Linked DNA regions of Homo sapiens. The protein of the gene in region 1 purifies or fractionates together with the protein of each later gene. This does not show direct contact. Each region holds a gene or a part of one and is shown on either strand. Other genes may lie near its edges.

Region 1 (3,500 bases):
AATTTTGTTGCCAACCCGTCCTAATTTTAAAAGGAAGGGAAATTTAGATTATTTTTAAATGTAGAGAGCTATCTCGGGGTTGTCTAAGCATCTTAAAATTTAGTTGATGAATTAGTGCGCTTTTTTCCCCCCAGTCGCTCTCTTATTCTGAAGTTTAACTAAACTCTATTTGTTTTTGCTGTTTTTGTATTTTACAGCTATCATGAGAAGTTTTTCTCTCCTACAAGAAGCCATAATCCCCTACATCCCTACTCTCATCACTCAGCTTACACAGAAGCTATTAGCTGTTAGTAAGGTAATAGAGCCAATTTTGAAAGTGGGGTTCCTTTTTTATTTGCTCCAAACTGTTTGGGCCTCAGAACTCTTTGGCATTACGTGAAGCTTTAGAGAAGGTCTGTGAATTCTTCCTGACCAGCCACTAATGGACTTTTCTGAAAGTGTGGGCATGCTGTTAGATTGGAGACGTAATAGCAGTCACCTTTAAGTGTGTGCTAGAAGCTTGAATACATTTTCATTCTCATTACAAAAGTAACATGTTTATTGTAGAAAAAGAAAGTGCAGATGATCCAAAATTACCTTAAATGGAGTTAAGTAGGCTTTGCACTAAATGGATATAAAAGAGGCTGTCTGGACTTCTATGAAATGATGATTAAAATCCTTTGTGTTGTCTTTTCTTCCTTACTCTTATTTCTCAAAAGGAAAGTTCACTCTGATCAAAATTTTACAGATACTTAGATTCATGTTTATTAACACTAAATTTTAGAAAATAAATCCGTTTAAGGCTGACAGAATTCCTTTTTAGATGCTATTCTTGATCTTATGAGAATTAGATCAATTCATAGGAAGTGTTGGAGGGATTTTGGAGAACAGAGTGATTATTATTCAACTGAGTTAGGGCTAAGGGTCTTTGGACTACTTAGGGCCTTGAGGGATGGAGCGGGGAGGGAACCCAAGTCTCCGCCTCCCATATGTATTACCATCTCATGTTCTGATTGAGTTAGATTTGTATGCTAGTAGCCTTCCAAGAACTTGTTTAAAGAAAAATGGGGTTTTGTTGCTTAAAAAGAACATAAAAAACTACTCATTTGGGGGATTATCAGTAAGTAGACATAGACATTGAGGCCCACAGAAGTTAAGGCTAGTGGCATTACTAGGACTTAGTATTTCTTCTCTGCGAGGGCACGTGGGCTTAAGACAAGTTACAGCTCTGGGATCTGAGGTTTGTATAAGCAACTCTGTAACTCTGAAGTATTTTTTTCATGGTGGACTTTGGGCCATTTAAAAAAAAATTCAAATGAACAAGCACTAGGGTATAATTGGTGTTTTTTTCTTAATTTTGATTTTTAAAAAATAAGATGGCCTCTATTTTAAATGTGTTTTATAAAGGTTAGGTGTGGATTATTAGCATAATTAGGTTTTTTTTTTTTAATTTCAGAACCCAAGCAAACCTCACTTTAATCACTACATGTTTGAAGCAATATGTTTATCCATAAGAATAACTTGCAAAGCTAACCCTGCTGCTGTTGTAAATTTTGAGGAGGCTTTGTTTTTGGTGTTTACTGAAATCTTACAAAATGATGTGCAAGGTAAGTTAACGGAAATTATTTTCTTTGTAATGGAATAAAATTAACATGGCTATAAAATGCAGCCCACCTAAGCGATGTGGGCCTTTTGTGTCAGTCATTCCTTCTGAAGCTCACAGCTCTGTTTTTACTTTTATCAACAGAATTTATTCCATACGTCTTTCAAGTGATGTCTTTGCTTCTGGAAACACACAAAAATGACATCCCGTCTTCCTATATGGCCTTATTTCCTCATCTCCTTCAGCCAGTGCTTTGGGAAAGAACAGGAAATATTCCTGCTCTAGTGAGGCTTCTTCAAGCATTCTTAGAACGCGGTTCAAACACAATAGCAAGTGCTGCAGCTGACAAAATTGTGCGTCAGGTTTTGATATAACTGTAATTTTATAAAGTAGCTTGGAGAAACTGGGGATGGCAGATGTTTGAAATTTTTTTATTTAAAATAAATTTAAGGCTGGGGGCAGTGGCTCAAGCCCACCACTTTGGGAGCCTCTAGTGGGAGGATCCCTTGAGCCGAGGAGTTTAAGACCAGCCTAGGCAACGTGGTGAGATCTATCTCTACAAAGGAAAAAAAAGCTTTTTAATTAGTTGGACACAGTGGAGCATGCCTGTGGTCCCATCTACTTGGGAGGCTAAGGTGAGAGGGTCGCTTGAGCCCAGGAGTTTAAGGCTGCAGTGAGCCATGATCTCACCATTGCACTCCATCCTGGGCAACAGAGCTAGACCCTGTCTCTTAAAAAAAATAATAATAATAATAACGGAAATAATTAGTAGAAAATGTTATGGTATGTTTTATCAGAATTCTGTATCCTTTAGTTATTTATATCCATGATGGAAAATTTTAAAAACAGAGCCAAACAGGTTGATTTTAAGAACTTAACTTTGGTCGGGCGTGGTGGCTCACACCTGTAATCTCAGCACTTTGGGAGGCCGAGGTGGGCAGATCACCTGAGGTCAGGAGTTCAAGACCAGCCTGGCCAACATGGCGAAACCCCGTCTCTACTAAAAATAAAAATTAGGTGGGTGTGGTGGCACGTGCCTGTAATCCCAGCTACTCAGAAGGCTGAGGCAGGAGAATCGCTTGAACCTGGGAAGCAGAGGTTGCAGTGAGCCAAGATCGCCCCATTGCACTCTAGCCTGGGCAACAAGAGTGAAACTCCGTCTCAAAGAAAAAAAAAATTACTTTAATGGCTACGCGGGAGGAATTGTTCCCCATATGTTTCAGAAATAATTAAAGAGAAAAGGATAGATTATTACAGTATGAACTCTGTTTTAAGACATATATCATGTTTAACTTTTCGAATAATTATTCCTGTTAACCATTTTCTGTTGGATCTCATTTCTTAACAGCCTGGGTTACTAGGTGTCTTTCAGAAGCTGATTGCATCCAAAGCAAATGACCACCAAGGTTTTTATCTTCTAAACAGTATAATAGAGCACATGCCTCCGTGAGTATGACTAGAACTTTGTGCATTTATTTAGAAATTTTGTTAGGTGCTCAGAAAAGTCCTAAATTTATATTGTTGATTTTTTTTAATTCTTTAGTGAATCAGTTGACCAATATAGGAAACAAATCTTCATTCTGCTATTCCAGAGACTTCAGAATTCCAAAACAACCAAGTTTATCAAGAGTAAGTAAAATCATCTGGATGTTCTACAGAAGTAATGAAAGAAGGTAGCTAAAACCCTTAGACTTTATGGTTGCAGATACATTTTTTATCCGTTTTAAACTTTATGCAAAAAATACTTGGCCACGTGTGGAGGTTCATGCCTGTAATCGCAGCACTTTGGGTGGCCAAGGGAGGCCGATCGCTTGAGCTCAGGAGTTCAAGACCAGCCTGGGCAACATGGCGAAACCCTGTCCCTACGAAAAGTACAACAAAATTAGCCAGGCATGGTGGCATGTGCCTGTAGTCGCAG
Region 2 (3,217 bases), on another chromosome or scaffold:
CTGCCTCAGACCTCAAGATGTCCAGAGCAGCGGAGGATCCAGGGCAGTGTGGAGAAAAGAGAATAAAACACGAGGCATGTGCTCCATGAATGCCATCAAACATTTGTTTTTAATCTTCTGCCCAGGGGAATCTCATAGAGCTGGGCTGCTTGCAAGGTGGGGGCTGGTCCCAACTCCTCCCCTGCACTCCGGACAGCCCCCTGCCTAGGGATTTGCTGGCAGATGCTGTGCACCCACAGAGCAGACTTGCTCGCATGAATAGGAAGTCAATTCCCACCGCCAGCATCTCAGCTCCAGCCACCTTCTGGGCTTTGCAGCTGGAGTGTCACAGGGTGAGGGGCCAGACTGCCAGTGCGGGGTCACAACTGGACTCAGAGCAGAGCTGTCTTCCAGGCTGAGAGGCCAGGGTCTGAGGCGCTGGCCCTTTCTCTCTCTCTCTCTTTTTCTCTCTCTCTTTCTCTCTCTCTCTTTCTCTCTCTCTCTCTTTCTCTTTCTCTCTGTCTCTCTGTCTCTCTCTCTCTTTCTCTCTCTTTCTCTCTCTCTCAGCAGCAAATCTAGACCCCCTCTGTCTGCCTGTTTTCCTTCCAGCCTAAAGGGAACATTCAAGAGGTGAAAAAAGAAGCCAGAAACAGAGGTTGAAATTACCCATCCCCCTGAAATGCTTTGTTTCTCGAAGCTTCAGCGTTTTTCCAACGTAGAATGGAAAGTTTTCCTGCATGCAGAATTGCAAAATGCAGGCGTCTCACCACATGACCACCAAGGTCTGAAATCTCTGTGGTTTTCAAGATGTTCATGCTCAAGAATTCCACCCCTAGCAATTGCTCTTAAATATCCAAGAAAGGCAAAAAATCTATTCTGGAAGGTCTGCATCATATCCTAATAAACAATTGGAGGTGATCTAAATTTCCAGGAGTAGCTTAGTAAATAATGGTTTATAAGCATGATGGCATTCATTATATACAACAATTAAAATGGTAATTCTTCTGGCTATAAATTAACACTGAATCATGAGTAGTTGATGTTATTTGTTGAGAGTTTGCTCTATCAGTTGTTTTCAACCTTGAGAACATGTTGGAATCTCCTGGGGCCTAGGCCTCATTCCTGGAGAGCAGGCTTCAGCTGTTGATGTGCAGGGTCTGGCCCTCGGTGTCTCTTTTGAAGCTCCCTGGTTGATCCTGCTGTGTAGCTAAGGCTGAGAGCCTCAGTGCCACTTCCAGGTACTTTGGGTGCATAACAGCCACCAGAGTCATATCTTTACAAGTCTCCTGGGCACATTTACATCAAATGCAGTGGTTCTGGTGTCCCTCCCTTCTCCCCAGTCCACCCCACCCCACCCCACCCCCCCATTTGGGCAGGGCAGGATAATATTGCTTATCTCTTATTTATTACAAAAATATTTTCAAGGATACTCTGGTTGTTTGTTGTTCCATAACCATCCCAAAACTGAATGGAGTAAACAACGGCAAAATTATTGCACAAATGCTGTGTGTCAGGAATTGGCACACAGCATAAGAATGGCTTTCTTCTTTTCTACAATGTCTGGTGTTTCATCTGGGAAGACAGATCTGGCAGTCTTCAGCTGGGTGCTGGAATCGTCTGAAGGTTTATTTATGTACATGTCTGGTGCCTTGTCTAGAATGACTTGAAAGATGAGCTTGGCTAAGACTGCCAGCCAGAGTGCCTGTACACGGCCTCCCTCTATGTGGCTTGGGCTTCCTTGCAGCATGGAGTCTCTTGGTTCTGGGAGCAAACATACTGACCAGTAAACAACACAGAGGCCTTTTTGACCTAGTCTCACAAGTCAGTTGCTTTACTTCTATTATACTCTATTATTGAAGTACTCATAAGCCCACACAGATTTCAGAAATATTTTGAAGATAAGAGTTGACAAGATTTAATAATGGACCAAATATGAGCAGTGAAGGAGAGGACTGTTGAAATGCCAGTGCTATAATATGATATGAAAAAAAATGTGAGAATACATGTATATAATAATCCTGGTGCATATAGATGAGAATTGAATGGAGTGTGCAATAAAGAAAAATTTTAAGGTGGTAGCAGCATGGTCTTTCATATGACTCAATCATTTTGGTAACTCTTCTTATCCCTGTGACTACCCACCAAACCTGTGCACTGACAGTCTTTGAAGATCATCGATTGTCACTGGGCCCCAGCATGACTCGAATAGTGAGTCTGCTTTCCAAATACCACATTCAGAAATCACCCTTTTCATGTGACTTTCCAGCTGGGAGAACCACAGTGCTGTAAGCCTGTTAAAGACTGTTCACCCTGTAAACCTGTGGGGTTCACCAGGCCCCTGGCATCATGGGGTAAAGGTGGGGAATGGCCTGAGCTCACCTATTTTGGGGTCTAATCTCTCTTCCGTCCTTTCTCTTTAGGCTTTTGATATTATGAGAGTGACACATGGCAGAGAACACAGCCTGATTGAAGATTTGATTCTACTTTTAGAAGAATGCGACGCCAACATCAGAGCATCCTAAGGGAACGCAGTCAGAGGGAAATACGGCGTGTGTCTTTGTTGAATGCCTTATTGAGGTCACACACTCTATGCTTTGTTAGCTGTGTGAACCTCTCCTATTGGAAATTCTGTTCCGTGTTTGTGTAGGTAAATAAAGGCAGACATGGTTTGCAAACCACAAGAATCATTAGTTGTAGAGAAGCACGATTATAATAAATTCAAAACATTTGGTTGAGGATGCCATCTGGTAATTGTCTTATTTGCTTACTCATTGGCGATTTTAATGTTTAAAATACCAACATTCAAGACAGAAAATCATATTAAAAGCATGACAAATAAGTTATAACTTTCTCTTTGGATATATGTAGGGATAATTAGATAAAAGTCACTATTTTCACATTTGCTTCCAAGCAAAAACTTAATGTCCATTTTGGCAAGAAGCAGAATTTTGAGATGTCATCTTTTGCTCTTTGTGATAAATGATGTTTGTGTTTGTTATTTACTTCCAAATACTTCTCCAACACAAGAAGTTTTATCCTAAATGCTAGGAAGAAGCCATTTTAGATATTACTAGAAAAGGATAGGAAGTCTTAATGCCAAAAACCAGTTTTTCGAATGTCTCACAGCTCTTTGTGTAAACCTTTCTCATCAGCATTTTATAACTCCTTGTGTATGTCTTTTTTTTTTCCTTGAAATTTTTTCTGTAATTAGCCAAATGTGTGGTTCAGCATGTGAGTG

What was found. The genes of interacting proteins can lie anywhere in the genome.
Region 2: the proteins of CSE1L (region 1) and SMYD3 fractionate together in Homo sapiens (co-fractionation; one large-scale study listed by BioGRID). This does not show direct contact.

The regions. Positions count from the first base shown.
Region 1 is NC_000020.11:49,087,812-49,091,311, forward strand, and holds part of CSE1L (exportin-2), read left to right. Parts: intron 1-197; coding exon 198-295; intron 296-1,435; coding exon 1,436-1,586; intron 1,587-1,726; coding exon 1,727-1,935; intron 1,936-2,930; coding exon 2,931-3,028; intron 3,029-3,125; coding exon 3,126-3,211; intron 3,212-3,500. UniProt on the Homo sapiens protein: Export receptor for importin-alpha. Mediates importin-alpha re-export from the nucleus to the cytoplasm after import substrates (cargos) have been released into the nucleoplasm.
Region 2 is NC_000001.11:245,748,847-245,752,063, reverse strand, and holds the end of SMYD3 (histone-lysine N-methyltransferase SMYD3), read left to right. Parts: intron 1-2,399; coding exon 2,400-2,501; 3' UTR 2,502-2,717; downstream 2,718-3,217. UniProt on the Homo sapiens protein: Histone methyltransferase. Specifically methylates 'Lys-4' of histone H3, inducing di- and tri-methylation, but not monomethylation. Also methylates 'Lys-5' of histone H4.